Linked DNA regions of Homo sapiens. The protein of the gene in region 4 interacts with the protein of the main gene of each other region in a pairwise test. Each region holds a gene or a part of one and is shown on either strand. Other genes may lie near its edges. The genes, in order: PTGIS, PTTG1IP, ARFGAP3 and PTGS1.

The links.
Region 1: the proteins of PTGS1 (region 4) and PTGIS come close enough for resonance energy transfer, tested with the Homo sapiens proteins (one study listed by BioGRID).
Region 2: the proteins of PTGS1 (region 4) and PTTG1IP interact in binary tests that used the Homo sapiens proteins (3 or more experiments, as listed by UniProt).
Region 3: the proteins of PTGS1 (region 4) and ARFGAP3 interact in binary tests that used the Homo sapiens proteins (3 or more experiments, as listed by UniProt).

What each region holds. Positions count from the first base shown.
Region 1 is NC_000020.11:49,565,135-49,572,519, forward strand, and holds the start of PTGIS (prostacyclin synthase), read right to left. Parts: upstream 3,004-7,385; 5' UTR 2,983-3,003; coding exon 2,909-2,982; intron 1-2,908. UniProt on the Homo sapiens protein: Catalyzes the biosynthesis and metabolism of eicosanoids. Catalyzes the isomerization of prostaglandin H2 to prostacyclin (= prostaglandin I2), a potent mediator of vasodilation and inhibitor of platelet aggregation.
Region 2 is NC_000021.9:44,870,674-44,877,788, forward strand, and holds the start of PTTG1IP (pituitary tumor-transforming gene 1 protein-interacting protein isoform 1 precursor), read right to left. Parts: upstream 3,018-7,115; 5' UTR 2,944-3,017; coding exon 2,829-2,943; intron 1-2,828. UniProt on the Homo sapiens protein: May facilitate PTTG1 nuclear translocation.
Region 3 is NC_000022.11:42,847,260-42,854,279, forward strand, and holds part of ARFGAP3 (ADP-ribosylation factor GTPase-activating protein 3), read right to left. Parts: intron 374-7,020; coding exon 255-373; intron 1-254.
Region 4 is NC_000009.12:122,366,107-122,374,042, reverse strand, and holds the start of PTGS1 (prostaglandin G/H synthase 1 isoform 1 precursor), read right to left. Parts: upstream 3,020-7,936; 5' UTR 2,959-3,019; coding exon 2,952-2,958; intron 2,858-2,951; coding exon 2,771-2,857; intron 2,431-2,770; exon of another isoform or gene 2,228-2,430; coding exon of another isoform or gene 2,209-2,227; intron 1-2,208. UniProt on the Homo sapiens protein: Dual cyclooxygenase and peroxidase that plays an important role in the biosynthesis pathway of prostanoids, a class of C20 oxylipins mainly derived from arachidonate ((5Z,8Z,11Z,14Z)-eicosatetraenoate, AA, C20:4(n-6)), with a particular role in the inflammatory response.

The DNA.
Region 1 (7,385 bases), on a different chromosome or scaffold from region 4:
TAATTTTTTTTGTATTTTTTTTTTTTTTAGTAGCGATGAGGTTTCACCGTGTTAGCCAGAATGGTCTCGATCTCCTGACCTCGTGATCCGCCCTCCCGGCCATTGTCCTTCTTTAAGAATTTTTTGCTTGTAGTTGCATTTCTTAGTATCTAAAAGTCACATGGTTCTAAGACTTTTGAGTGTTCAGATTACCAGTATAATGTGTGGGAAGACTGAGAATTCATTCTTCCTGTGAATTAAAAATTCTTGCAAAGCCAGGCGTGGTGGTTCACACCGGTAATTCCAGCACTTTGGGAGGCTGCGGTGGGAGGATCGCTTGAGCTGAGTTTGAGACCATCCTGGACAACATGGCAAGATGCCATCTCTACAAAATTTTTAAAATTAACTGGGCATGGTGGCACACACCTGTAGTCCCACCTACTCAGGAGGCTAAGATGAGAGGATCACCTGAGCCCAGGAGTTCAAGGCTCCAGTAAGCTATAATTGTACACTGCACTCCAGCCTGGGCCACAGTGTGAGATCCTATCACTAAAAGTAAAAGCTAAAAATTCTTACAGCCCAGAGTTTTAATCCAGACAGACCTTGAGCAAGTTGCTTAGCCTTTCTGAGCCTGTTTCCTCCTCTGTAAAATGGAGATAACCAGAGTGTCCCTAGCTGAACTGGAAGGAGAAAGTGAGATTGGGGATCTAAACTGGGGTCCCCAGGGTCCATGCACCTACCCTCAAGCTGCCAGTGACCCTCATTCCCACACTTCTCCCCACTACCCACTGTTGACCCTTCCAAGGTGCCCACAGGTATAAAAATCAAAGGCTCAGCAGGGCGCGGTGACTCACGCCTGTAATCTCAGCACCTTGGGAGGCCGAGGCAGGCAGATCACCTGAGGTCAGGAGTTCGAGACCAGCCTGGCCAACATGGAGAAATCCTGTCTCTACTAAAAATACAAAAATTAGCTGGGCATGGTGGCACATGCCTGTAATCCCAGCTACTGGGGAGGCTGAGGCAGGAGAATCACTTGAACCCAGGAGGCAGAGGTTGCGGTGAGCCGAGATCGTGCCATTGCACTCCAGCCTGGGCAACAAGAGGGAAGATCCATCTCAAACAAACAAACAAACAAAAAAAGAGCCCATAACGTATTCACATGATGGAAGACTCCAGAGAGGATCAAAAGAATGGATTCGATCTCCTTGTAGCAAAAAGATCTGCTTGTAGCAAAAAGAACAGATGTCAAAACTAAAATCTGGAGTGAAAAGAGCAAGCAACATAATGTCTGAAAACATTTCTATACAGTGTATTGAGAAAGCCTGACAGGAAAAATAATTCATTTCTTCCCTGAGACATTTATTCACTGTCTTTTTCTTTTCTTGTTTTAAGGCAAATGATTGACTACACAGTTGTAAATTTCAGCTGAAAAGATGTCTGGAGGTTGAAGAAAAATACAGTGAGCTTATTGTTTGAAAATTCAACTACCATATTGTTTAAAAATCAAAAAGTTCCCAAGGTTTCCGGAATTTTCAGACACGAATGTAAACTAACTCTCTCTTACGTGGCTCTGTATTAGCTACAAGCTCATGTCTATGTATGTAAGAGTAATTTTTATGTAAGAGTAATTTTTAAAACATCTGGGAGACTGAGGAGGTATGAAAACTAAAGGCAATGTGGTAACTTGGGGCCGGATCCTGGAACAAAAGAGGACAGTAATGGGAAACTGGATAAAATCCCGTGAAGTTTGAAGTTTAGTTAAGAGTAACGGACCAGTGTTGGTTTTTAGTGGCGACAAATGTCCCATAACAATGTAAGATGTTAACAATAGGGAAAACGGGGTGAGAGAAATACAGGAACTTTTTGTACTATCTTTGCAACTTTCTGTAAATCCCAAACTAGTCTCAAATAAAAAGTATATTTTTTTAAATATGGAAGGTTCTACCCAGACTCAGCAACAGGAGAGGCCCAGAGAGGGAGAGAGGACTAGACTTCAGGGGCTGGGGGAGGGTTAAGGGGCTTCGGTCTTACCTATAACAGGATAAATATTTGTGTTAAGTCGAATGTATTCAGCTATTCCTTATGCAATTCAAGTTAACTTAAAAAATATTTTATGAAAAGGAGAGCTACAGCTATCTCCTTGATTTGAGGCTGTCTTTACTTTTTCTCCTAAATCACAGATGCTCAATGGAGCTGGAAAACCTTTGGGACCAGGAGGCTGTGACATCTGACCCTGGCTCCGTTCTGTCCAGGCTGTGGGACCTCAGGGGAAGGTAGAGACTTCATAGGCCTCAGTTTCTCCCTGGCAAATGAAATTACTAAGCCCACCGACCCCCGTCTTCCAGACGGGGAATCCCGGGGTGGGTGGTTCCAGGGCATGATCAAGACATCCCCCAGGGGCTCTACACTCCGCTGGCTCAACACTCCCATCTGTGTAATGGGTTGAGGAGCGAGGCTATCCCTATAGGACTGCCGAAAGCAAGGCAGGGTTTGACAGCGCGTAGGTGGGTGCCAGGTGCAGGCAGAGGCTGGAGAGTGGAGAGCGCTTCTTCCACCCGGGCCACGCAGAGGCTGTCCCCGCACGGCTCCCCACCCACAAACCCTCGGTCCTCACCTGAAACCCCCTCCTAGGTCCCTGCCGTCGCGCTAAGGGCCAGACTCGGACTTGTCGCGGTGGGCGATTCGCCCCGGGGGACCTACCGGACCCCGCACCTTCCCACCTTGCACCTTCTTGGCAGGGGGAGCACGGCCTGGCCCCCTCACCCACGTGCGGGGCCCCGGGACTCCCACCTCCGAGGGTCTCGCCTTGCCCGGGATACTGGAGCGGGACTCGGGCCGGGCCGGCCGCGGGCTCCGAGACCCTTGGGCTGCAGCCCGGGCGGGAGCCGCCCCCTTTGTCTGGCGGGGCCGAGCGGAGCAGGACACTCACCGCGTGCGGCGGCGGCTCAGTAGCAGCAGCAGCAACAGTGCGGCCAGGAGGCCGAGGAGCGCGGCCCAAGCCATCGCGGGGCTGGCGGGGCTGGCGGGGCTGGCGGGGCTGGCGGCCTGGCCCACTCCCAGGTAAAGTTCCCCGCCCCCACCCGGCGCGCCCCTCCCACTCCGCCCACCCCAGCCCGCTTTGGGGCGGGGTGGGGGGGGTGGGGGATGGGGCCCTCCGAGGTCCGCAGGGGTCGGACCGGGGCGCTCTGTTAGAAACCCTGCTCCCCCCAGCTCAGGCCTGATGGAAAATGTGGGAGGGAGGGGAGGGGAGAAGGAGGGGGAGGGGGAGGGGGCGGAAGGGATGTGGTGGGCTGGGGAGTGATCAAGGGGAAAGGAGATAGATGGGGGACTGAGGGGGATGTGGTGGACTGGGGGGTGATGGAAGGGAGGGGAGAGGGAGAGGATTTACAGGAAGGAAGAGATTATATGCGGGGAGGGAAGAGGGATGGGGAAGATGGGAGAGGACTTTTGGGGAAGGGAAGAGGAGGGAATGTGGGAAGACGGCGGGACGATGGGGAAACAGCCAAGGAGGTATGGGGAGGAGGGGGCACAGTGGGAGGAGAAAATGTGGTGGGAGGGGACGAACATGGAGGAGGAGTGTAAGGGGGTCAGGAGGAGCTTTCCCACCACATTCCACATTCCACCTAGACAGAGGAAACCCCCCAAGGCTCCTCCTCACCCCATCCCCCACCCCAGGCGTGCTGGGGACCTGGAGTTTTCCATTCTGTGGTCTGGGCTGGGAGGGCTGGTCTGGATTATATCGCACCCTATAGTATCTTCAGTAACTACTGGGCAGGGGGTACAAGGGTGTCTCAGGGAGTCCCCTCATCCTCACCTGCTTTGGGGACAGATAGTGCCCGTGAAGTATGCACCCTCTACCTGGTGCACGTTAGGGCCTCCGGATGTGGTGGCCATTGTCATCGCTACCTGGTGCTTGGGGTGCCAGCCCCCTGTGCCCGCGGCTCTGCAATGTACCACCCCAGGGTGCTGATGAGAACTGGGGGTCAATCCAGCCTCACTCCACGCCCCTGCCCCCACCATCCCCATTCCCACCCTGGGAAGCGTTGGGCAGGTAGCTCAACCTCTCTGAGCTCACCTCATTATCTGGAAACAGGGAGGGCAGAGTTGTGCTTACCTCTGGGGCTGTTGTGAGGAAGTGATGAGAGCTTGACACTAAAAGGAATCACAAACTGTTGAGTGCTTGGCACACTAAGTTTTATGAAACCATGGGCTGAACCTGGAGGTAAGACCCAGGAGGTCTTGTTCTAGTCCTGTATCCACCCATTCAGTGCCGGGTGAGCTTAGGCACGTTTCATTCCATAGTCCCAGCAGAGCTCTGGAGAAGCTGTTGCTCCTCCTGGTCTCCTGGCTTCCATCCTTATCAGCCAGGGTCCTGACAAGGCCCTTCGAGAACCAGCATGATCCGCCCCTTCTCACCTTTACCTGCCTGACCCTATGCCCCCGACTCTCTCCCTCACCCACTCTGCTCCAGCCACACTGATCTCCCCATCTTTCCCTAGAGGTCCCACTGCAGGGCCTTTGCACGTGCTGTTCCCTCTGTTCGGAGCATTCTTCGCACAGCCTGCTCTTTCCACCACCTCCCCGGTGCCTCTATCTCTGCTCAGCTGTCACTGCAGAGAAGCTGTCTTTGGCCACCTGGTCTAAAACAGTCATCTCCTCTTACTGATTTTTGTTTCTTTGTTTTTTTGATAGTTTTTTTTTCTGGCAGTACTTCACATGTCCTGCTATCATACTCAAGATTCATTCATTTGCCTGCTTAATGTTGGCTGTCGAGGCAGCTGGATGACCCCCTTGTGGCCTCAGCAGATTCAGAACAGCAGGAGGCAAAAGGAGTTTTCTGATCCTCTTGTTTATTTTTCCAGCTTATCTGCCAGAGAAGCCAACAATCCCAAGAAGGCCATAGAACGGGTCCAGAGGATTTTCTCCAAATTTGGGGAGCTCCAAAGGGCTGTCTGCTAGCAGTGGGGTTCACAGCTGGGCTTGGCCGATCCTCAGCTTTGTGACCCCAAGCAGACTGCTCCACCTCCCTAAGCTGAGGTTCCTCATTGACAGAATGGGGAAAAGAGAACCTCATGGAGTTGAGGTCAGGAACAAACGACCTGGTCCATGGGGCACACCTATGTGAGTGCCTGTCACACCATGAGCATCAGGGAAAGTTAACCGCAATTAGCGCTTATACCAGTTCCGCTCCTCTCCATTATCTGTGATCAGGCTTGGTCTCAATTTTCCCATCTGAAAAATGGGAAGAACAGTTCCTTCCTCATGGGGCTGCTTTGAGAACTGAATTAAATGAAAAGAGAATGAAATCACCCAGCACAGGGTCTGGTATACAATAGGTACTCAATAAATATTAGTTCTTCTACTCCCCACCCCTGGCTTCAGTGCAGACCAATATCACCTCAATACAAATATCTCTTCCAGATACTCTCTTCCCTTCTCGACCCATAGACAAAATCCTCCCAGGGAAGGAGAGGCAGCTGCTCACACACCAAAGGGAGATGAATGTGAGCCTCTGGTTCTTCCTGGATTTGTTCAGGAGTCGGCATATGTTTAGGAAGGTGGCCAGGCCCCCTTCCCAGAGAATGACCCACCATGGGTCTGAGCTGGTCCAGGAAATCCACCTTTGCTAGTGATTTGTCCTGAGGTGGGCACCTTCCAGATATCTGTTGCGGGCTTCTAGAAAAATGTGTTTCCTTCCTATTTGCCTTCTCTTCTGCTTTGGGGGCAATCGTGTGGGAATGTGATTAGTGGGGGAGCTGAGGGGGGCTGTAGTGTTATGAGGGAAGGCCAAGAAAACTGCAGAGCCCCAAACCAGAGCTGCGGAATCACCATCCCTGGAACCACCTGCCTATAGATTTCTCATTTAATGAGCTAACCACACGTCTGTGCTAGGACACCATGAGTCAGATTTTTCTAATACTTGCAGCCAAAGACATTCCCAACTGAGACGCCTTCTAGATATGGCTGAAGGGAGGACCAAATGAGGCAATGATGCATCCGGAGCACCTCTGCAGGACTGGCCCATGCGAGAATTCAAAAGTGTTGCTTTGTTTTATTATTTTTACTTTGCTTACTGTGTAAGCTTTCTATGTTTATCAGGCTGACAGGACATCCAACCCTCTGGCTATGGCATCTTGGAGGAACAGGCAGGCCTTGAAAATAGCAGAAATTCCGAATTCCCCTGCCCCGGGAGGACTCAAAGGACCCTGCTGAGGACAGAGCTGATATGGCCTCAGAATAAAGATGAGGGAAGACCATCCCAAGGAAGACCCCTCTAGCCCATGGCAAAAGGGCTGGAATACGCAAGGATTTGAAAAGCAAGTTTTGCTTTCCATATAAACCTAAGCAAGTCGCTTAATCTGTGAGCCTCAACTACTTTACTTGTGCAATGGGCATGTTGCTGGTAGTGGTGATAGCAGGGAGCCACCGAGAGAGCTTCCAAGTGTGCCATCTAAGCCCTCCTCTGGGGAAGGGAAGCTCCTCTGGGGAAGGGAAACTGGACCCCCGGGAAAATTTATTCTCCCAGGGACGAACATCCAGACATTTCCCTGTAGGAGCCTCAGTGTGTTCAGATGTTCACTGTCCAGTAGAAACAAGACATCTAGGCAACTCTCCCATCTCACCAAGCCTCTGCTCTCTTCTGTGGCCACTGTGGGGTTGTGAGAGTAATGTCAAGACCCAACCCAATTAGAACACAGGGAATTTTGCCTGGGAAAGGGAGCCCTTCTACCCTACACCCCTGCTTTCTCTCTTCCAAGGATCAGGTCTGATTCATGTCTGCATCCTAAAGGCTACAAATAAACTGTGTCCGGAAAGGAAAATATTATGTGTATTGCCTTCTTCAAGGCTAAAAACCAGTCTCAACAGAGAGGGGCAGTTTTAAATATTTTTTTGTAACAATAGTTCTAACTTTAGTTAGTAACTGAAGCCATCTGAAACACTTTTTCATAATAATTTATTTATTCCCCACAAAGAACCTATAAAATGGGTAGTAAAATTATTCCGAATTCACAGATGGTGAAATCAAGGTCCAGAAAGAGTCACTTCACCCAAGGTCACGTAGTACTTCCTTTGATAAGCTAGAGCATGGGAATTTGATGGCTTCTTAGGACAAGCTAACTTACTCCCTGGTGCTGCAAACACACCCTGGGCCTTCCCACCTCCACACCTTTGCTCATGCTGTTTACCTGCCTGGAAGCCCTCTCTTTCTCTACCTTTTGATTTTTCCAAATCGGTTAGGAGCAGGTTCTCCAGGAGAGCCAAGATGAGATGAGATATACTAAAGGCTTATTGAGGGAGTGCCAGGGAGTAAAATGAAGAGGGAGCCAGAGAGGGCTGGGAGAAAGGGACAGAAAGGAGGACAAATGGAAGGAAGGGACAGAGGAAAGAAGGGACCGTGGGCTGCA
Region 2 (7,115 bases), on a different chromosome or scaffold from region 4:
TGCCCTTGTGTTGCTTAAGTCTAACACTGAATGTGACTGCCCTGACTTCTGGGTCCTATGACTGCAAGGCTTCAACTTAGACTCCATTTATCAATTTTTAAAGACCTTTCAGTCTCATTTGTTTCCGAAATTAAAGGAAAAAACAACAACAACAAATAACGTTTTCTTCTGTCAGGATACACCAACCCTCCATGACCCATTTGAGTGCTTTCCTGAAGTTTCAGGTGAGTCAATAAACACACTAAGGACAAAGGAACACACCAGCAAGTGTACGTATTTCCTTGTCATGCTCCTGTCACACCGCAGGCCACAGGCTGCAGTCTCCATGCTCATCAGCAGAACGAGCAGCCAAACGGGCATGGTGCCCACTCTGCACTGTGACAGAGGCATGGAGAACAACTACATTGTCAATTCCAGGTGAGAAAAGAGGGCAGATATGGAGACAAAAAAATGTTCTTGGAAACTCCACTATTTCAAAAGAAAGAGTTGAAGACTAGGAGTATGTATCAACACTGTGAACCCTATGTACACTGTAGCACTCTGTACAGTTAGAAAGCCACGTTTCTCAGGGTGACAGGGGCAGAACTCCACATCAGGAGTCCCCACTGTAAGGAGCAGCTGAGTGGGACCCACCACCTCGGGGACCTGCACTGGCCACCACTGCGCCAGCCCTCACACAGCAGTCTGAGCTCCTTTTTGGGGTCGTCTTTCCTCCAGATGAAGCTCTTGGATTGAGTCTGACCCCATACACAAATAAAGTGGGGTCCAAAAGCCCTATCCAGGTTTAACTTCAAGAATCTTGCTCTAAAGATCTTCAATACACCATGGGTTCTTAATGTCTCTCCTCCATCAAAACACATAAAAAGATGCTTAAAAGTGTTGGATTTGGATTGGTATAATGTATTCTCTAAATTCACACAGTGTCCTTGTAAAGGAGACAAAACGTTTTAAACATCAGTACTGCGGTCACATTCCTGTAACCATGACAAGCAGTAAAAATCTCACACCAAGCAAGTACTCTGTGGGAAGAGGGGAGTTCTCCAGGCTATAAATAGCCCCTCTCTCCAAGGACAAGGGGCACGCAGACACCAAAGGCGCCTGGGCAGTGAATGCCAACATGACACGGCACCATTCTTCCTATTCCAAGGGGTCCCCAGTGAGAGAAACAACAGTCCACCCACCAGGACTTGGTGATTACCATAAGTGGAAGCAAGCAAGTGCAGCCTCCAAGTGCAGACACACCGAATGGCTTTTCAGCTGACACACCGAATGGCAGTTCCGGATTAATTCCCACACTGTCCACTCCACTCGTCCACACCCATCTCTGCACCCTTCAGCAGTGCAGAGCAGGAGGAATCACAGTCAAACAAAACCTCATGGTTGTTTTCCTGACACTCCCGCTTTCACAATGCAAGCAAACACACCCCCGAGCCACTGATACAGTTGCCAGTGAATCACACACTCTGCCTGCAGACGCCCATTCTGTTTGTGGAAACGTATTCACTGCACATTTGCGCTTAGAACTCAATCTGGGCCAAAAGTTCCCAGTACAGTCCCACTGGCCTCCTTGACTAACAAACTTCAAGGCAGCTGCATTGCTAACGTCACAAACCCTAAGCACACTTGGAGGCAGGTAAGAAGAAACACAAATAATCCTGCATCGGAATAAACATTCCATAAGGTCACAAAAAGAAAAGGTGCTCTACTATGCTAAACAGACACTGACAGAGCCTGGGCTAACAAGAGCTGAGAAAAGTATTAGCCCCTCAAGCTGGGCCCAGGTCAACCCTAATTGTAAGGGTCAGGAAACTGAAGTTAAGGTGGCACTATTCCCCACCACTAGTGGTCACCTGGAAACTCCACACACGGAAGCCAGCATGACATTGTGAAACAGGTCCAACCATGACACTCTCCAGCTTAGAACCTGCTGGATTTTCCCGCAGCCCACCAGGCCCTGGAGGCCCAGCCCCACAGGAAGCCACCCTCTATAAACACTGCCGGTTTCTGGAACTCTGAGTCTCCTGTCATGCACTTTCCTCCCCCAGCCCCCGCGCCCTCACTGCTTCTTTCTTGGTCAGCCTCCCGGGGACTCAGCTCCTCTTGGATAGGAGCTCTGGCTGTCGGTCACCACTGTGGCCGCAGGGCCTGGTGCAGACGGGATAAACGATGAAGAATGCCACCTGCGCGTCTGGACAGCGTAGAACCGCAATCAGCTTGCTTCAAAATCAGATGCTACAGCCTGGCTTTGGGGACGCCTTCCTTTCTAAGGCATAAGTGCGAGCGTTCGCTGCTGTGCGTGGAACTGCGGCCGGGAGGGAGTGGCGGCGTGAACGCCGGCGGCTGTAGAGACACACCGGCCGCGGCCCCATCACCCTGCAGGGGCCTGCGGCCGCCATCCCGGCCTGCCCCCGACCAGCTGTGCGACCTCGAACACGTCGTGAGCCGGCTTCCCGGCTCGGGATCGAACCCGAGGAGTGCTGTTTGGGGTCGCAGTGAGGCTAAGGGAGGCCGCAGGTGCCAAGCGTCCCGCCTGCCGGGCGAGGGCCAACCCGAGGCCACGCGCGAGGAGCGGCCGCAGCGACTGGACAAAACAAAGACAAAGACAAAGACGGCTCTTCCCCTGCCCGCGCCCCAGCCGCGACGGCAGCTCCCGCGGCCGCCAAACGGGCGTGACCCTCGAGGAGCCTCCGTCGGGGCGCTGCCTGCGACCGTGGGCCCAGGCCGCCCGCCGAGCCCAGCGCCCTGGCCGAAACCCCGACCCCGACCCCGACCTGGACCCACCAGCCGCCCCGCCCCCTTCGCGGCCCCGCCCGCCCCGGCGCCCTCACCAGCTCCGGGAGGCTCCTGCGCGGCGGCCACCGGGATGAGCAGCAGGAGCAGCGCGGCGCCACCGAGGCGCAACCTCCAGTACGGCGTCGGCCCGCGGGCCACTCCGGGCGCCATGGTCGGCCGGTCGCTCTATCAGTCAGTGGAGCGTTACAACTCCGACTCCAGCACAAGCGGTCTCCGCCCGGAACAGCCGCGGCGCCGGAAGTGGACCTGCGAGGTGGGGCCATGCGAGTGCGCAGCCTCAAAAAGCAGCTCGCCCCGCTCCCTCGCCATCTGCCCCGCCCCTCGCCAACGGGCTCGCCTCCCGGCGCGGCTGAGGTTCAGTGCGCCTGCGCGATAGAGGAAAGGAGCCTGGTAGCGAGGAGAGCGGCTGAGGCTCAGTGCGCCTGCGCGGCGCGGATGGGCGAGGCGTGACCGAGGGGCGAGGCGTGACCGAGGGGCGAGGCGTGACCGAGGGGCGAGGCGTGACCGAGGGGCGAGGCGTGACCGAGGGGCGAGGCGTGACCGAGGGGCTCGCCGCGGCTCCTGCGCCTGCGCGGCGGGGAACGGCGACCGGCTGAGGGGACTAGGGGAGCGCGGTGCTTCGGTGGCGGAGGTCACGGTGGCCTCCATCCTAAAGGGCTGCGGGCGTCCCGGACGGCGGTCCCAAGCGCTGCTCACGCTGCTCTTAAGTGAGCCCTGGACGAGGCGCGGTGGGCCCTCATAGTCCGCGCCGGCGCCCTCGCTCCACACCGCGGCGTCCGGCCCTGGGCTCCCGCCGATGTCCGCGTGGGACTTTTAGGGGATTTGTTTATTTTTGTACGTTAACCACACTAGAAACGGCCCCAGAATGGGCTGAAACGTGTGCTGCTGAAGCTGCCACCTAAACTCCCGAGAGAAGCGCCGTTTCTCCTCCATGGCTTCTCGCCGACGCCCTCGCTGCGGCCTTCCGGGCCCCTCGGTTGATAAAAGGACTAAATAGTGACGGACATTTTTAAGGCTACTTAAGAAATGGCAAAAATACATTTAGAGGTGTGAACCCGAACACACTGCGCGCTTTAAGCCCCGCGAGAGCCGGGGCCGCCCGCTTCTGTGCGCCCGTAGCTCCTTTCTCGGGTCCGGGATTCGCCGGTGCCGGGGACAGAAACCTCCTGCCTTCTTAGTTCATGACCCTTGTAGATGAACTTCCCTGTTTTCTGCACTGCTTAGACCAGAAGACGGGAAACCGTGACTGCCGCACCCTTCCCTGAAGCAGGCACTGCCCGTCGTCCATCAAACGCGAGGACTGCGCCCACCTCGTAGGAAGGACGCCGCGGTCCTGCTAAAAGCCTCCGCCTCTGCCTGCCCGAGGGCACCCTTCCCCTCCCCGCTTCCGAGGGCGGACTCCATTCCTCTGGAGCCGGTGTTTCCGGGTGGGCCAGCCTCCAACTGCCTTTGAATAACCCCCCCTTACATTAGATTCTGACCCTGTGGTGATTTTAGGTTGGGATTTGGGCGCCTGCAGATGGCTCCGAAGCCAGCCTCTTGTGATCCGAGCCACTTCTCTGGCACTCGGAGCGCTGGCACCCGCGGAGCGGCCTTGGTTCACCGGACCGCCTGGGAACCTGGCCGGGGTCTCTGGCAGCCTCCCAGGGCTGAGGTTCAGACTCTGTTCCGCCTACCCAGGTCCACACCTGATAGGGCTGGAGTTGAGGCTTGGTTTTAAGGCAAGAGTTTCGTTTGTTATTTCTCCAAAGAGTCAGCTGTTTGCAGGTGTGTGGTTAACACTATCCTTCGAGGTTAAGGTTTTGTTCGTCTTGCTAAAGTTTGCAACCTTTTTTGTCCTTCAGATTTGGAGAAGGGGAAAGCAGTTTCTCTTTGAAAAGAAGCAGCGAATCGTGGCTTAAGCAAAATTTGTAATCCTTAAAACTGGCCAGGCTCTGGAGCTGAGTTCAATTTGACATGTCTAAACTTTCTTCTTGAGTAACCAGATTTTCCCTTACAGTCTTTTGTCACTTAAGAGAACTCATAGGCAATCGTCCATCCAAAACAAGTCTTTCTCCTTCAGGGAGGACCCATCTTTGGAAACTCCAGCTGGTTTCCTGTGCAGTGCTTATGGTGCCACCTCTCGTTATATTTAGAAAAATGGTCTCACGTAACTTGAGAAAAAACATTTCAGTGACCAAAGCCGGGTACCATTGGAACACCAAGGTAATTTACTTGTTTGCTCAATTGGAAAACGCTGGCTCTAGGATAAAACGGAATCTTTGGGAGAGTTATTTTTTATGGTAGTTGGAAGCATCCAAAAGAAGTTCTAATAAAGGTATTTATGAGAGAAAAACAAAAATTATCTAAAATAATTTCTGAATTTAAAAAAGACTACTGAAATTTCTCCCCCTCCTCCCTCAGCTCCTTCTCTTTATCCTTTGTTGTCTGAATTACCTCGCCCAGACCCACCTTTCTTCCTCCTCCTCCTCCTGTTTTGGGGCCATTGCTCAAACAGCCAGTGTCTCTCATAGGGGACAACTATGTGCCCTAGTTCATGAGTTATGGTCAAAGGTAGAACTTAAAAGTATAATCAAGGAATTTCCTGATGCTCACCAGGACCCCACTGGTTTTCCCAGAGAATTTAAATACCCGAGTGTGTGACCCTGCCTCTACTTTGGGAAAAATAATTTTTTTTTTTTTGAGACGGAGTCTCGCTCTGTTGCGCAGGCTGGAGTGCAATGGCTCAATCTTGGCTCACTGCAACCTCCGCCTCCCAGGTTCAAGCGACTCCTCTGCCTCAGCCTCCCGAGCAGCTGAGACCACAGGCACGCACCACCACGCCCGGCTAATTTTTGTATTTTTAGTAGAAATGGGGTTTCACCATATTGGCCAGGTTGGTCTTGAACTCCTGACCTTGTGATCCACCTGCCTCAGCCTCCCAAAGTGCTGGGATTACAGGCGTGAGCCACCACGCCTGGCCATAAAAATTATTTAAAATAGTTAACACGAGTTCCCATTGCTGACATAAGCTTTTGCTGATAGAGCAGCCGTGTTTTCTGTAATAAATCCCATCTTGTTACAAGGTTCCATTCCTTGGAGTCAAAAAAAAGTTCAAAGGGTAGGTGTCACTAATACGCCTGTAACGGCACGTAAATCTCAGCCTATAGCTTTTCAACTAGGTCCTTTACAAGGGACTCACATTTTCCTTCTGGTTCTATCAGCTGCCAGCCATCTTATAAAAGGAGACTTCTTAGAATTACAATATCCACGTTTCTTTCTCCCAAAGGGGGAAGACGTATTTAGAATTAGATGAGAAAGCTGAGTTACTAGACATAAAAAAAGTTTCAAAATCTAACCCAATTGCGATCCCTAATTGCCCTAGAAGACACTGAATTATTGAATAATGAAGAATTACAAAACCTACTAAAGGCAGTACTTGATCAAATATGGTCAGAGTCTTCCACTGATACTGGAAGAATCCTCTTGGCTACCCCGATCAAAGTCCTTTAGTGTAGTGGACTTATTAGCACATCCTTCAGTAGTTCTGTGTGTGAAAGTGTTGATTTCTCTTTACCTTTACTTGGGAAGGCAGACAATACACACAGACAGCCATGCTCAGGGCTACACTGAGAGTCCAACTGATGCAAAGACAGTTGTCTTACATACTGACTTGTTCTTTTTTTTTTTTTTTTGACGGAGTTTCGCTCTTGTTGTCCAGGCTGGAGTGCAATGGCGCTACCTCGGCTCACTGCAACCTCTGCCTCCCGGGTTCAAGCAATTCTCCCACCTCAGTCTCCCGAGTAGCTGAGATTACAGGCATGCGCCACCATGCCTGGCTAATTTCGTATTTTTAGTAGAGATGGAGTTTCTCCATGTTGGTCAGGCTGGTCTCAAACTCTGAACCCCAGGTGATCCGCCCACTGCAACCTCCCAGAGTGTTGGAATTACAGGCGCGAGGCACTGGGCCCAGTCTTTTGACTTGTTCTTAAAAAAAATTTTTTATTACAATACATGGGCAGTTTACTCCTTTGCTCAGAAGATAAGCAAAGCTTTTATAGAAGATGGGATACATTCATTACAACAGCCCTAAAGGGACATAAAATTCCTAAAGAAAAACCTCAATTTTATAAAAAACAAAGTACTTGGGCCACTTAATATCTAAAGAAAGACTTTCTACTAATCTAGATAGACTGAAAGGAATTTTAGCTTTCCACCACCAACAACCAAGAAACAAAAGGATGTGGAGGACTGGCAGGATATTATAGAAATTGGATCCCAAACTTTTCTTTAAAGCTCAGTCCTTATACGCTCTCTAAAAACAGGACATGCCAGGACTTTAG
Region 3 (7,020 bases), on a different chromosome or scaffold from region 4:
GGGCTTAAGTGATCCTCCCACTTCAGCCTCCTGAGTAACTAGGACTAGAGTTATACATCATCACACCACAACATTTTTTATTTTTTGTAGAGGCTGAGTTCACTTGAGCCCAGTGAGCTATGATGGCACTCCTGCAGCCAAGGTGACAGGCGACAAGGCAAGACACTGTCTCAAAAAAAGAAAAGAAAAAAGGGAAAAAAACACCCATGTAACAATGTAATCAATCTCACCCCAATGAGAGAAGATTCACTTACCGAATAAAACTCAAGTGAACACCAAGTGACCGGTGGGACCCTGAGCAATCAATGCAAAGGAACACTCCATAGGTTATGCTTGCCCAGCTGGGATTTTTGGCACCACAATCAAAACACACCTGAAAAAAAATGTTAAATTCAGTTACTAATTTATGTTAGCCAAATAAATTATCCTGTAAGATACAGTAAATGACTTAGCTTGAAAACTGTTTAACCTTTACAATGTAAACTTTGGGATTGTATTATTAGAAAATATCTCACCTAGGTTTTTTTAAAAGCCTCAAATTTCATGCTCTTTTATTATTATATATAATTATATTAATTATAAATTAGTATAGTTAATTACTATATTATGTATTTTTTTATTCTGAGACAGAGTTTCGCTCTGTCACCCAGGCTGGAGTGCAATGGTGCAATCTCGGCTCACTGTAACCTCTGCTTTCCAGGTTCCATTGATTCTCCTGCCTCAGCCTCCGGAGTAGCTGGGACTACAGGCTCACACCACTATACCCAACTAATTTAGTACTTTTAGTAGAGATGGGGTTTTACCATGTTGGACAGGCTGGTCTCGAATTCCTGACCTCAGGTGATCTGGCAGCCTCGGCCTCCCATAGTGTTGGGATTACAGGCACGAGCCACTGTGCCCAGTTTACTACATGATTTATACAGTATATTACAGATTATGTTATATATATATTTATCTATTTATTTTTGAGACGGAGTCTCGCTCTGTCGCCCAGGCTGGAGTGCAGCGGCACGATTTCGTCTCACTGCAAGCTCCGCCTCCCAGGTTCATGCCATTCTCCTGCCTCAGCCTCCTGAGTAGCTGGGACTACAGGCGCCCGCCACCGCACCCGGCTAATTTTTTGTATATTTAGTAGAGATGGGGTTTCACCGTGTTAGCCAGGATAGTCTCGATCTCCTGACCTCGTGATCCACCCGCCTTGGACTCCCAAAGTGCTGGGATTACAGGCGTGAGCCACCGCGCCCGGGCTATCATGTATATATTTTAACAATGCACACTATACATAGTGAAGAGAATTTAGGTTTGTGTACCATCTCAAACATGCCTTATCCTTGAAGCATCAGCAGGGATCCTACCAGTCATGTAAAGGAATGCTAGTGAGGGAAGCAGCCCTGCCTAGAAACACTCCAGCCCTACCATCCTTCCTGGCAGTGGCTATACCAGATGGCAGGCTGTTGAGCATATTGCTTCTCTCCCCAGCCAGAGGAAGAGGTTGTGGCAGCCAGACTCCAAGATGGCCCCAGTGAAACCCACCTCCTGGTATTTGCATCCCGTGTAATCTCCACCACCCTCACTTTACCAAGGTGATCTGTGTGTCTATGTGTATATGGCAGAAATGACCATGTCATTTTTGAGATTGGGTTACAAATGACACTATGGCCTTTTCCTGTCTCCCCCACTCTCTTTTTCTCTCTCCCCCTCTCTCCCTCCCCACCTTGGATCACTAGCTCTAGGGGAAGCCAGGTGCCATGTCTTGAGGACACTCAGGTTGCCCTGTGGAGAGGGTGAAGTGCTGAGGAGTTGAGGCCCCCAGTCCAACTGCCAGCGAGGAGAGGAGGCCTGCCAACCACCATGTGAGTAAGCTCCCAGATGACCTCAGCCCTGGGCCAACAGCTTGACTGCAGCCTCATGAAAGACCCTGGGTCAGAAGCAGCCAGCTAAGTCACCCCCAAATTCCTGACCCTCAGAACTATCTGTTGTTTTATGATGCCAAGTTGGGGGTGATCTGATACACAGCAATAGATGACTAATACAGAGAGATATTCCTTTATGAAATGCTGTGCCCTTCTCTACCTCCACTGCCTCACTCTGTCCAGGTCACTTTGATAACTCTTAGATGCAGGTTCATAACCGAGGACTACGTTCCCTGCCCACTGAGGGCACTGAGAGCTCTTACAGGGGTAGAATCTTTCCCTTTTGCTAATCTTTATGGCTTTTTTTCTTTTTTTTTTAAGGAGACAAGGTCTGGCTCTCACCTAGGCTGGAGTGCAGTGGCACGGTCCTAGCTCGCTGCTTTATGGCTTTTTTTTTTTTTTTTTTAAAGAGACAAGGTCTGGCTCTGTCACCTAGGTTGGAGTGCAGTGGCACGGTCCTAGCTCACTGCAGTCTCGAACTCTTGAGCTCGAGCCATCCACCCCCCTCAGCCTCCTAAGCAGTTAGGACAAGTGTATGCCACCGTGCCCAGATTTTTTTTTTTCTTTTGTAGAGATGGGGGTCTTGCTATGTTGCCTAAGCTGGTCTTGAACGCCTGGGCTCAAGCAATTTGGGCCCTCTCGGCCTCCCAAAATGCTAGGATTACAGGTGTGAGCCACCACGTCCGGCTCCTGTCACCTTACTTTCCTGTCCACTAGCACAGAACCTGCACATGGTAAACGCACAATAAGTGTTTGCTGAATAGTTGTGTACTTTTAAATCTCACACACAGCCTGAAAAATAGGCTTACCCATGGTAAGCATTCAGTAAATATTTGTTACTCAAAAGAATAACTTTAAAAACGTATTGCCAGCTCAAAAATTACTAGCCCCTTCAACACTGACACTGAAGCCCAACAGGAGCATAAAAGTACTTTAAAATACACAGTGCTAACTAGCAGAGTCACGCGTCGGAAGTGTGCTGGGCCCATAAAATACACAGTGCTTGTTGTGGAAAGTAGTATTTATAACTCATTAAACTCCGAATAGGGAAAAAATTCCTCTAATAGAGGTGTTTTTAATCTTTTTGCAGGAAAAAAAAATACATATTAGATATATAGGCTGGGTGCAGTGGCTCACACCTGTAATCCTAGCACTTTGGGAGGCCAAGGCAGGTAGATCGCTTGAGCTCAAGAGTTTGAGACCAGCCTGGGCAACATGGCGAAACCCTATCTCTACCAAAAAATTAAAAAAATTAGCCGGCGTGGTGGAACGTGCCTGTAGTCTCAGCTACTCAGGAGTTTGAGGTGAGAGGATCGCTTGAGCCTGGGAGGCGGAGGATGCAATGAGCGGAGACCACTCCACTGCACTCCAGCCTCAGCAACAGTGAGACCCTGCTATCAAAAAAAAAAAAAAAAAAAAAAAAAAGATATACTTTATAGGCAGAATCACTTATGTGAAGGTTGTCCAACCTATCATTATCAAGCAAGATCTGGCTTCTGGTCTTTTCAGGGCAATACAAGGGCAATACAAGAGAGGAAACACGAGTGGGTTTTCTAAAGCCCCTCACCACAATATGCTCACACTGATCGCACACTGAATAATCGGGGTGGAGTGACAACTGACACAAAAAGAGGCCAGGAGATTTACTTTGGTGTTTACTGATCACCTGCTGTATGTCAGACATGTGACAGGTGATGAGGTATGAAAAAGTAGCAGCACAAACACTAGCTGAACGCTTATTGGTGCTAGTCTTTAAAGAGCTCACTGAGAAGTGGGGAAGACAGACGCGCAAATTCAAACGCCCTGTGGTGATGGCCATTAGGAGAACCCTCTTCTGTGGGGCATCAAACAAAACGACAGACTCTGCCAAAAGGTGCTGTTCTTCCCCGTCAGGCTGTGTGTAATTTCTCACCTAGTTACTCAACTACCAGTTGCTGTGCACTTACCATCAAGTGTACCTGGCACATACCAAGTGGACATACCAGCGTGGTTCAGGAAGTCTGCCCACATGGAGCCCACAGTCTAGCAGTCCAGTGGGCAAGACAATTAGTTACAAGATTGTTTCCTAGTAAGCAAGGACAGGATGCAAAGGGTTTTTGGTAGAGGTGATGGCAGAGATTTTGGGTACACAGCCCAGAGCAGGCCAAGTTTGAGAATCACTTCTGAGGTGGTCACCAGACTGGCTACAAGAAGAGAGCAGTGAGGTTCCTAATGAGGCAGGCAGCTTTGGCATCCTCCGGACCCATCACCTAAGCTAAGGGATTGCTAAAATGTAGCCCCATGAGGGGGGGGCCATGTCTACCTTATTCACCTGAGCTTGGCACCATGCCTGGCACAACACAGGTGCTCACTAAATGCGAATGCACATGGTGGAGCAGTTTATAGGGGTAGAGGAGCTAACAAGTGGAGACTGGGACGTGTGGAGGTCAGAAGTGGTGAGAAATACAGGTCTGGCTCCCATAAATGCTGCCTTGATCCTCCTGCTATACCAGGAGGCTATGCTTTGGAAGCAGGGACTGCGCTTTGATTTGATATGCAATCCCAAACCAAAGTCAAGATGTGGCTTTTAAAGCAGAACATCAGTTCTTATGGTGATGAGCAAGAAATAGCTTTTGACTGACAATTTGTTTTGTTTAATGATGAGAATAATTAGTATACAAATAATAATAACAGCTAATATTGAGTGTTTAATTCAGGCACTATTGTTGGCACTTTAGCCAATTTCATCTTCCTAACAACGCTTTCATTAGTAGGGTACTAGTAGAAGGTACTATGATCATCCCCATCAGGGCCAGCTTCCTGGGCATGTGTGTGATCTATGCAGTCGCAGAGGGCCCCACACTTAGAATAAAAGAGTGTGTGATTGGCTTAATGCTCTGCTGTCTCATCTTGAAATTCTTTTTTTTTTTTTTTGAGATAGGGTCTCATGCTGGAGTATATGATATGATCTCGACTCACTTCAACCTCTGCCTCCCGAGCTCAAGCAATCCTCCCACCTCAGCCTCCCGAGCAGCTGGGACCACAGGCATGAGCCACCATGCATGGCTAATTTTAATTTTTTTTTTTGGTAGAGATGAGGTTTCACCATGTTGCCCAGGCTGGTGTCAAACTCCTGAGCTCAAGCTATTCATCTGCCTCGGCCTCCCAAAGTGCTGGGATTACAGGCGCCACCGCGCCTAGCCTCATCTTGAAATTCTTTTTTTTTGAGATAGGGTCTCGCTCTGTCGCCCACTCTTGAGTGCAATGGCGTGATCTTGGTTCACTGCAACCTCCGCCTCCTGGGTTCAAGCAACTCTCCTGTCTCAGCCTCCCGAGTAGTTGGGATTACAGGCACATGGCACCACGCCTGGCTAATTTTTTGTATTTTTAGTAGAGATGGGGTTTCACCATGTTGCCCAGGCTGGTCTCGAACTCCTGAGCTCAGATGATCCACCCACCTTGGCCTCCCAAAGTGCTAGGATTACAGGTGTGAGCCACTGTGTCTGGCCGAAATTCTTAATACTGTTCAAACAAGGGCCCTGCATTTTCATTTTGTACATTTCACAAATTATGTAGCTAGTCTTGATCTCCATTTTATTTATTTAATTTTATTTTATTTGTGTGTGCGTGTGAGATGGAGTCGCTCTCTGTTGCCCAGGCTGGAGTGCAGTGGCGTGACCTTGGTTCACTGCAACCTCTGCTTCCTGGATTCAAGCGATTCTCCTGCCTCAGCCTCCCGAACAGCTGAGATTACAGGCACTCGCCATCATGCCCAGCTAATTTTTGTATTTTTGTAGAGACGGGGCTTCATCATGTTGGCCAGGCTGGTCTTGAACTCCTGACCTCAGGTGATCCACCCGCCTCAGCCTCCCAAGGTACTGGGGTTACAGGCGTGAGCCACCGCGCCCGGCCTATTTATTTGTTTTTTAAATCAATGAATGTTTTCTTAATTCTGATTCCTTTTATCATGTGCTTTCTTAAACAAAGAACTTTCACATAAATTATCTTATAATAAGAGTTTCTTTCTGATTCAGTTTAAAAATGACAATAGCATTCGTTGTGCCCAAGTTAGAATTATACCAAAATTACCATATGCCAGCACATACAATCATTCCACTGGTGGCTGGAAAATTAGCTTACGGGAGTGTCTGTCACTCAGATGGGCCATCACCCCTGGTGGGCACATGGTGGAGATAAGGGAAGGCCAGACTAGAAGAAAGCTGGGTCTTTTGGATCGTTTCTACTCCTTTTTCACTTCTTCACCATTCTCCCCACTGAGCTTGAACAAGGGAATCTGCTGGCCATCCTTGGGCTCTAGGAAGACCTCATCAAGGTGCCACCTCTGAAAGGGGCACTTCTGGATGAGCTGACATGGAGATGGCCCTCTGACTTGGATCCAGAGCTAGGAATCTTCAACTTGGCATCAGCAATGTCCACAAAGTTGTGCTTGGTGAGTTTGAGACAGTGAATGTTGAGAAGAGGGCCCAGAGCTCCCTGTGCCTTGGGATGGCTATGCACCTGCTCCAATGCCAACTGGTAATACAAAGCCCTGGAAAAAGTCTTTTGTATGCGGTAATACACAAGGGCCAAGCCCCCAGTACCGAACACATTGCCGAAAAGGACCATTTTTTCCTTGAGGCACTGGCATCCTGCTGCCTGGATACTTTTGCCACCTCACAGCACAACTCTCTTGAAAATCATCAAAGGCAAGTTGTTCTGTAAGCGACAGAAGCACCATGCTGCAGAGAGCATGAGGAGCCCTTCCGGGCGTGGGATGGTGGCGGTAAATCTTGATCTCCATTTTAAAGAAAACTAAGGAATTACTGAATTAAGTATGACAGATAAGAAGTGGCCACTGCTTAGTAATTCCTTAGTGGAAATGCCCACAATGGGGACTGGATCCCATGCAGTCTGTTCCCAGAGCCACTCTTCCCGCTCCACCACACTGTGCTTCAGAGCAGAAAACATACCACCTGCCGTCCTGCATCTGCCCTTCATCTGTCCACTAGACTATAAGTTCCCTGAGGACAGGAACATACCATCAGTGTACATACCTTTCATGCTCTACACAGTGCCCAGCATAGCATAGGTGCTTAATGAATACTTGTTGAATGAATAACCCAATCTA
Region 4 (7,936 bases):
TCAGGGCTCCAGGTCCAGGACTGAGCGTGACTAGGGGACAGGCACAGCCAGGGAACACCAAGTCCTCCAGGATGCAGAGGTGTCAGGCTGCAAGATTGCCCAGTGAAGAGGCAGGACCCAAATCCCCTAAAGAGTAATATTTAGAGAGTCTCTGGGGACCTGGCAGCCAGAGAGAAAAAAAAAAAAGGTGGGGAACCCTGACTGGTTTGGCCTGGGCCCCAGTCCCCACACCTAAGCACCACCACACCAGATCCAGACAACTGGGCCCAGCAGCTGGAAGAGCCTGCTGGTGGGGAAGCCCTCTCCCGGCCCACAGACCCAACTGGTGCTGGCGAGAGCAGGTGCAGGCACCCGGGCAGCCTTGGCACAGCTGGCATCTTGCCCCATGTGCCCGGGTCAGCTGGCCTGGGGCTCCTCTGCCTGGCATGCAGCTCTGGTTGCCAGGTCATGCCCTATCCCCATCTAGAAGATGGGCACTGAGTCAAGTCCAGAGACTAGAGGGGAAGTACTTGAGCATTCAGGGCGCCCCCGGCACAGCCTTGCCTCCAGGCTGGCCTCCATCTCCTCACCCACCAGAGAGGCAAAAGCAGCATTCTCTCCCTCCGCCTGCCCTCTTAGGTGAGTGCAGCCCTCATCTCTTCATCTCCTTTGCCTCTAGAGGTAAAAGACAGGCTTTGGCTTCCTGGGGCAGATGCCCAAGTAGCTTGGCCCTCAGTTTACTCGCAGACTTGGAAATATGAGGGCAACCCAGACCTTCTGCCCCTGCACTCCACCAGTCATTCGTTCTTTCCTAGATCCTTGCAGGAGCCTCGGTACCAGTTTTCTGGCCTCCAGTCTCATCCCCACATTACGCATCCAACCTCAGCCTCCTGCTCCACATTACCCTTACGGTGTTTCCTGGTCGAGTCTCTTAGTGTTTCCCCCACCCGCCACCTCCTTCGAGGTCCAGTCCAAAAGTCATCAGATCCAAGAAGCCTCCCTCAATTCTTCGCACTGAGAGGCAGCTGCTCCCTCCCCTGAGCTCCGCACACCCCTGCTCCCTTCCCTGGGCTCCCTATACCCCTGCTTCCTCCCATGAGCTCCGCACAGCCCTGGTCCCCTTGGATGACAGTCTGTTGGCATTTCTGGCTCCACCATCAGCCTGTCAGCTCCTCCCAGCTCCGTGTCTCCAGGCCCCAGCCAAAGACTGGCATAAATAACCCTTGGGGATAAAAAAAAACAATTCCGTGTAAACATTTATTATACAAAAGGAAACAGAAAAGGCAAAAAACAAAATAGCACAGACCATGGCTCATTGTGCATTAGTGAATGGACTAAAAAAGAATACAGACGGGTGGGACCTGTATACCAAGAGTGCCTGGATGAGGCCAGATGGGGCCTCAGAGGAAGTGCTGGGCTGATCCAGGGACTGACAAGATGGGTCAGCGAGGCAACCTGAAGAGCCCCTTCTACTCCCCACCACCAGCTCACTGTGAGGATTCAGACAAGTGGCTTCACTCCCTCTGGGCCTCAGAGTCCCCTTCTGTAGACTGGGTCTAACGCATCTCTCTGGCAGGGCTGTTGAGAGCACCAAAGAGGTGGATGTCCACAACCAACCTTTGTAAACTTTAAAGTGCTGGCCACATGAGTCTTCCTCCTCCTCTTCCCATAAACCAGACTTTTATTCAACGCAATCCCTTTCCTAGAGCACCCTCCGTCCTCTCTTTGGGTCCCCTAAATGCCACCCACCCAAAGCCCGTTTCAGGAAACTTGGTCTGATCCAAAATCCATGTACATATCTTTCCTCTTTCCCCCACGCACCAGATCCTTAGAGCATCACAGCAGAAAGTGCGGACTCCCTCTGCTCCCTCCTGCCCTCTCTGGGCCTCATTTTAGAGATTTTACACAGCTAGGTGGTGGAGGAAACTATATCCAACTGGGACACATGCTCACACACACGCACACACACAAGCAGCGAGCTGGGGGAGGAAGGTTGGCTGAGCGAGGAGCTGAATTCCTTCACCTGGAACCTGGCACATGCATGGGGGAGGGAAGGGCGGAATTTCCCCATCAACCTCCCCCATGAAACCCAGAGTGGCTCCGGGTCCATTGTGGGTAGAAGCAGCTTTCTGTGGAAAGACCTTGCGAAGTGTGTGGACGCAGACAGACCTGAGTTCAGATCCTGGGCCCACCATGTATTTTGTGAGCTTGGGGAATCATGGCACCTACTGAGCCTCGGTTTCCTCATTTGCTCAATGGGGATCTCTTAAACCCCAGATGAAGCATCCCGGCTCCTAAATGTATTTCCATCTCCCATGTTCTCCCGAAGTCTTCACCAGGGGAGACCTTCTCCACTGGCAATGGGAATCAGGATGGGTTCCCAGACGGTTAGAGGCTGGAGAAAGGGAACTCATTTCCCTTGGTGCCTGCGGCTTCCTCCCAAAGAGGCCCCTATAGGAAACAGCGGGGTTGTTGGGTGCAGAGGCTGCTTAGACATCTGGGGCCCAGAACAGGTGAGGGGGATGGATAGGGACTGTCCCTTCTCCCCAAGTTGGCACCAGATCCCAGTCTGCTGTTTCCCCTGAAAGAACTAGATAGCCCATTAGCCAAGGCCACACCGCCGGGGGGGCTTCAGGGAGCCCCCATCCCACCAAAAGACTCAGCCTCAGTCTTTCTCAGCACCGCGAGCAGAAAGGGGAAGCTGGGCCCGCTGGAGGGGAAAGGAGGGGGTTGAAACCAGGCCAGGGGCGCAAGACCGGGGATTCCCTTGGGGAGGGATGGGGCCGCCTACCTGGCGTGGGCGCCCCTGGGTCCGCGAGCAGGACGGGGAGCGGCGGGAGCAGGAGCAGGAACAGCAAGAACCAGAGCAAGAGACTCCCTGCAGAGGAGAGAGATGAGGGGCTGAGCCTGGCATTCAAGGCTCCACCAGGAGGCCAAGAAAATTCCCCACCGGGCACCGGGGTCGCACTCACGGCTCATGGCGCGGCTGCTGGGGTGCGGGACGCAGAGTGCAGGCTCCTGTGCGTGCGCCTCGCACACTGCCCGGAGCTCCAGCCCATCCCCTCCCCACCCTTCCCCCGGCTCCACCCCCGCTCCTCCCTCCAGCTGTCACCTCGGCTGCCCGCTTACTTCCTCTGCCCAGCCCCGGCCAAGGCATTTTATTAATTAGTGTATGCTCGCCGCTAAAGCGGCTTTTCACCCAAGATCCTTGAAGCACTTACGTTTCTGATGCCTGGTGGCACTAGATATAGACAGGAAACTGAGGCTCAGAGACGATGCTCAATGCTGAGGTCACCCAGGGCTTAGGGACAGAACTGGGGATGGAAGCGGCTCGTCTGAACCACATACCCTGCCCCGCAGAGAAGAAAGGGTCTCAGAGTCCCCTTCTGTAAAATGGGTCTAACGCACTCTACAGAAAAGGGTAGAGAAGAAAAGGGGCTAGAAACAGGGCAGTCTGCAGAGAAGAAAGGGGGCTAGAAATGGGGCAGTCCAGCCTGGCCTGCTGATGGTTTCCTAGATGAGAAACTCACTACTCCTCAGACAGATCTAACAGGAAGGACTTACTTCCCCCATGGGCTGGGCTCCGCCCCCTGAAGCCACAGGTCTCTGCCAGAAATGAAAAGACCGGGCTCCAAACTCCAAGAGAGCCTAGTTCAAATCCAGACTCCACAGCTTACTGGCCGTGTCACCTTGGACAAGGTACTTATCTTTTCTAGCCCTCAGTATTCTCATCTATAAAATCGGCTTAATAGCAAAAACCATCCCAGAGGGTGGTTGTAAGATTCAATGAGGGAATGCACACAAATCTCCTGGTGCAGTGTCCAGCATGTAGTAGGTGCTCAGTTATCGGAAGGCATTTTTTCAAAGATCTCTGAACTCAGATTCCAGGGCTGGCCAGGGTCCATGCTGTAGCTAGACTCACATCCACCGCCGAATTTATAGAATCCCAGCATCCAGCTCTCCTTTTCGCCAGCTCAGGAAGCACCTAGAAGGAGGAAGGAATAGGTCCAAGATCACCCAAAGTCCCATGGTGCTGGCACCCACAAGTCATCTCCCTCAGTTTCCCCAGCACACCCAGCCATCCTGTGGGCCCCACAGTGGGGAAAGCCGGCAGGAGAGCTCAGAGGTTCTTGTGCTGGCTCCTGGGCATCACTGGGTGCAGGGTAGAAATTATGCCAGGTGGGAGAGGTGAAACCTGCTGGGAAGCCCCTCCCCCATTCTCACCCAAGCTGTTCCCATGCTCCCCTGGGACAAAAGCCAGCTGCCCTAGGGAGACAGAGCAAGCCAGGGCAGACCTGGAGAAGGAGTGGGGCATTGGAGGGCCCTGGGGCTCTCAGGGTGCCGGGACCGGCTTCAGCCTTCCCTTCCTCCCCAAATCAAGGGCCCCCTAGCATTTACAGGGCAAGGAGATGGGATTATCAGCAAAAGGGATGGGGACAGGGTGGAGGTGTGGGGGTCCAGTTGTCCAAAGAAAGGGGGAGTTTCTGGTGAGAAGAAAGGAGAGACGGGCTTGAATGAGGTTCCATCTTCCACTCCCAGGCCCTCCCTCCCTTTGGGCCCTGAGCCCATCAAGTCACCACACCTGTGCCTCCTGCTGACTTCCAAGCCACCCATCTGCACTCAAAACAAGAAACACTTGTGTGGCCCTGGCACTGATGGGAAGAGCCTTCACCTCAGAATCAGAAGTGAGTTCAAGTCACTTCTTCCATAGCGTGACCTTAAACAAGCCGCTAGGCCTCACTGGGCCTCTGTTTCCCCATTTGAACAACAGAATGAGCAGATCAGATGGTCTCTGAGGACTGGTCCAGTTCCAGCATGGAGCAATTGAGCCCTCACTGCAGCCAGGCTCTGTGACCAGCACCACAGATCTCAACACAGCTGCAATACAGGAGAGGATGGAGTCTGAGAGAGCAGGCAGGGTGCCGAGGCAGCCCTCCAGGGATGAGGCAGGACCAAGAGCATGGAGTGGGGAGAAGGTAGATGAGAGAAATGGTGGCAGAAGTGCCAGGGCTTGGTGACCGATTAGCACTAGAGCTTAGGGGAAGAAAGGTGCTGAGGACACCTAGCCTTCTGGCTCAATGCTGGTGGTAATATCCAGGGAAGGGGAGCTGGCATGGGTAGGTGGAATTTGAATTTGGGCTTCTTGTATTTGATCCACTTCAAGGAATGAGGAGGATCAAACCTTCCCTGCCTTCTCCAGCTTGGCCCATGGGCCAGCACCCCCAACCGCCCCAGCATGCAGCTGGATACACAGGGGAGAGGTCTGGGGTAGCCCTTGCCCCAGCCCTGGGAAAGAGACCACAGCACAGGGCCACCTTTTCCTGCTCCCTACTGCAAAGCTATAGTCTAAATGCCTAGGACTGGTGTCACCATCCTAGTCCTCAAGATTGTGAGCTTCCACTTATAGGGCAAGTCCACCTCCCATGTCCCCTGGTAGGCCTCCTCTAACATGCCTCCTCCTCCCCCTTCTCTCCTCTAGGAAGCCCCTGTGCCTTCCCTGGCCACAGCAGTGCCACTCCTGATCACATTGTCCCTCTGCCCCCAAACATTATGAGGCTATAAGAGTCCTGGTCACTCTTGTAGCCCCAAGGCCAAGCATAGGATCTGGCGGATAAAAGACATCCAGGGAATGTTTGTTGCTTGAACAAAGAAATGAATGAGTATCTAAAAGAGTAGTGAATGCATTAAAAAAACAGACCAGGTCCAGCACCAGCCTCATCGAAGTGACTGCCAACCACCCATCTGCTGTGACGGCCACCAAAAGTATCACTGCCTGCCTCAGTTTCCCTGCCTTCTCCAGCTTGTCCCATGGGCCAGCACCCCCAGCTGTCCCACAGGCCCAGCTTCACCCCAGGCCCTGAGCCCTTCCCAGCTAAGGCAGCAAGGACCTCCTTCCCTATACCCCACTGGTAACAAGGGATAGGATTTCTCTCTGCATAGCCCCCTCCCCATTATCCACACCAATCACGTGCCCTCCTGCTCACCCTAGCTACAGCCTGGATTGTAATGCTCCTGGAGAGGTCTCACTCCTGCTGGGCCCCACCCACTATTTGGAAAACCAGAGCTGACTCTTACCTGAATCACTCATGGACCCAGCCCCACCCGGCCCCACCTGTGTAGGCAGCTTCTCAGTCAGGCAGGAAGGCTCTGGACTCAATCCAATATCTCTTCAAATCCCAGTCCTCCACCCCACCTGACCTCTCAGTGTGACCTTAAGCAGCAAACTGCCCTTTGTGGACCTCAGTTCCCCCACCTGTAAAAACGTGGTTAATAATGCCACTCTTGCAAGAGTTGTTGTGAGGATGAAGTAAGATAGTCCCTGTGAGCATCCCCAGCATTCAGTAGGAGCTCAATGCTAGTTCTTTATTGGCCCTCGCTTCTACTCCCTACCTGAGCAAGAGGGTTGCATGAAAAATTCCCTTCCTCCTCCTCTTTACCTACTCAGAACCAGGCTAGGGTTGACCATTGGAGGTAATAATAATAATGGCTAATATTTCTTGAATATCTACTATGTGCAGGGTAGAATGCTATGTGTTTTAAATGCACTGTTACATGTGATTTTTCTCAACAACCTTATAAAGTCAGTATCATCACTTCCATTTACAGAGAAAGAAAGTGAGGCCCAGTGTTGAAGCAGCTTGTCCAAGATGCACAACCAGTAAGAGTCAGGTTTCAAGGCCCAACCCTTTTGTTCTGGAATACCGGGTACCTGTACCCAAGCCCCAGCATAACCAACGAGTGTTTGAAGTTAAAAGGAAACAGAAAGGCTCGCTAGGGTGGTAGTCGGCTTGTGGAGCGATGTGTGGGATCCAATTTAAGCAACATAGTTCAGCTGAGAAGCTGAGAACTGAGAGTCACAAAATAATGTTTTGGTTTTGGTTTTGGTTATTTTTTGTCAGGGTCTCACTCTGTTGCCCAGGCTGGACTGCAGTGGTGCGAACTTGGCTCACTTCAGCCTTGATCTCCTGGGCTCAGGTGATCCTCCTACCGCAGCCTCCTGAGTAGCTGGAACTACCGGGTGCATATCACTATGCCCAGCTAATTTTGTTTTATTTGTTTTTTTGTAGAGACGGGGGTCTCACTATGTAGCCCAGGCTGGTCTTGAACTCCTGGGCTCAAGTGATCCTCCCACACTGGCCTCCCAAAGTGCTGGGATTACAGGCATGAGCTACCACACCCGGCCTACCAAATGCGTTTACATCCCTTTCTCATGGAAACCCTCACAATTGCTGGAAGAAGAAGGTATCATGATCCCCATTGTGCAAAGAGGAAAATGAGGCTCAAAGATGTCCGTAGATTATGCAGAGAGGAAGAAAAGTGGGAGGAGTTTTAACCACTTCTGGGGCACTTACCATGTGGCAGACATTATGCTAAAGATTTTTGGTGCATCATCCCCTTTATAACTCCTAACAGCCCCATGAGGTAGATGTTCCTCTTGTCTCCATTTTTATAAACAGGAAAATTAACTGACTTGCTATAGCCTATACCACAGGCTATATATGGGTGGTAGAGCTGGGATTTGAGCCATGGCCTGTATGATTTCAACATTTACAAGTGTAACTCCCTATTACGCTCATCGCTGGTTATCTTGGATCTCAAACCCTGAATCCTTAAACAAACACCCAAATCCTGCCAGGAATGGGCCAAGAAGATAAACAAGCAGGAGACTCTAAGTGGAGAGTCCCCAAGTTCATCTGGGGAGTTTCCACTGCAGGTGCCCTGTCCCGCAGACCTCTCCACTAGACAGCCAGCACCATCTGCTTGGCACAGGATGGCTGAGTGGTCACACCATGGCATCCTCCCCAGCCAGCCCCCACCATCAGTGTAATCCGCAGAGCCTCAGACATCAGCTCCTGGGATCAGGGGACTCAGCCACCTGTGACGGACAAACCAGGGGAAAGAGCCATTCTCTGGCTAGGGGACGTTGCTCAGGAAGTTTATGGGGCTGTAAAATACA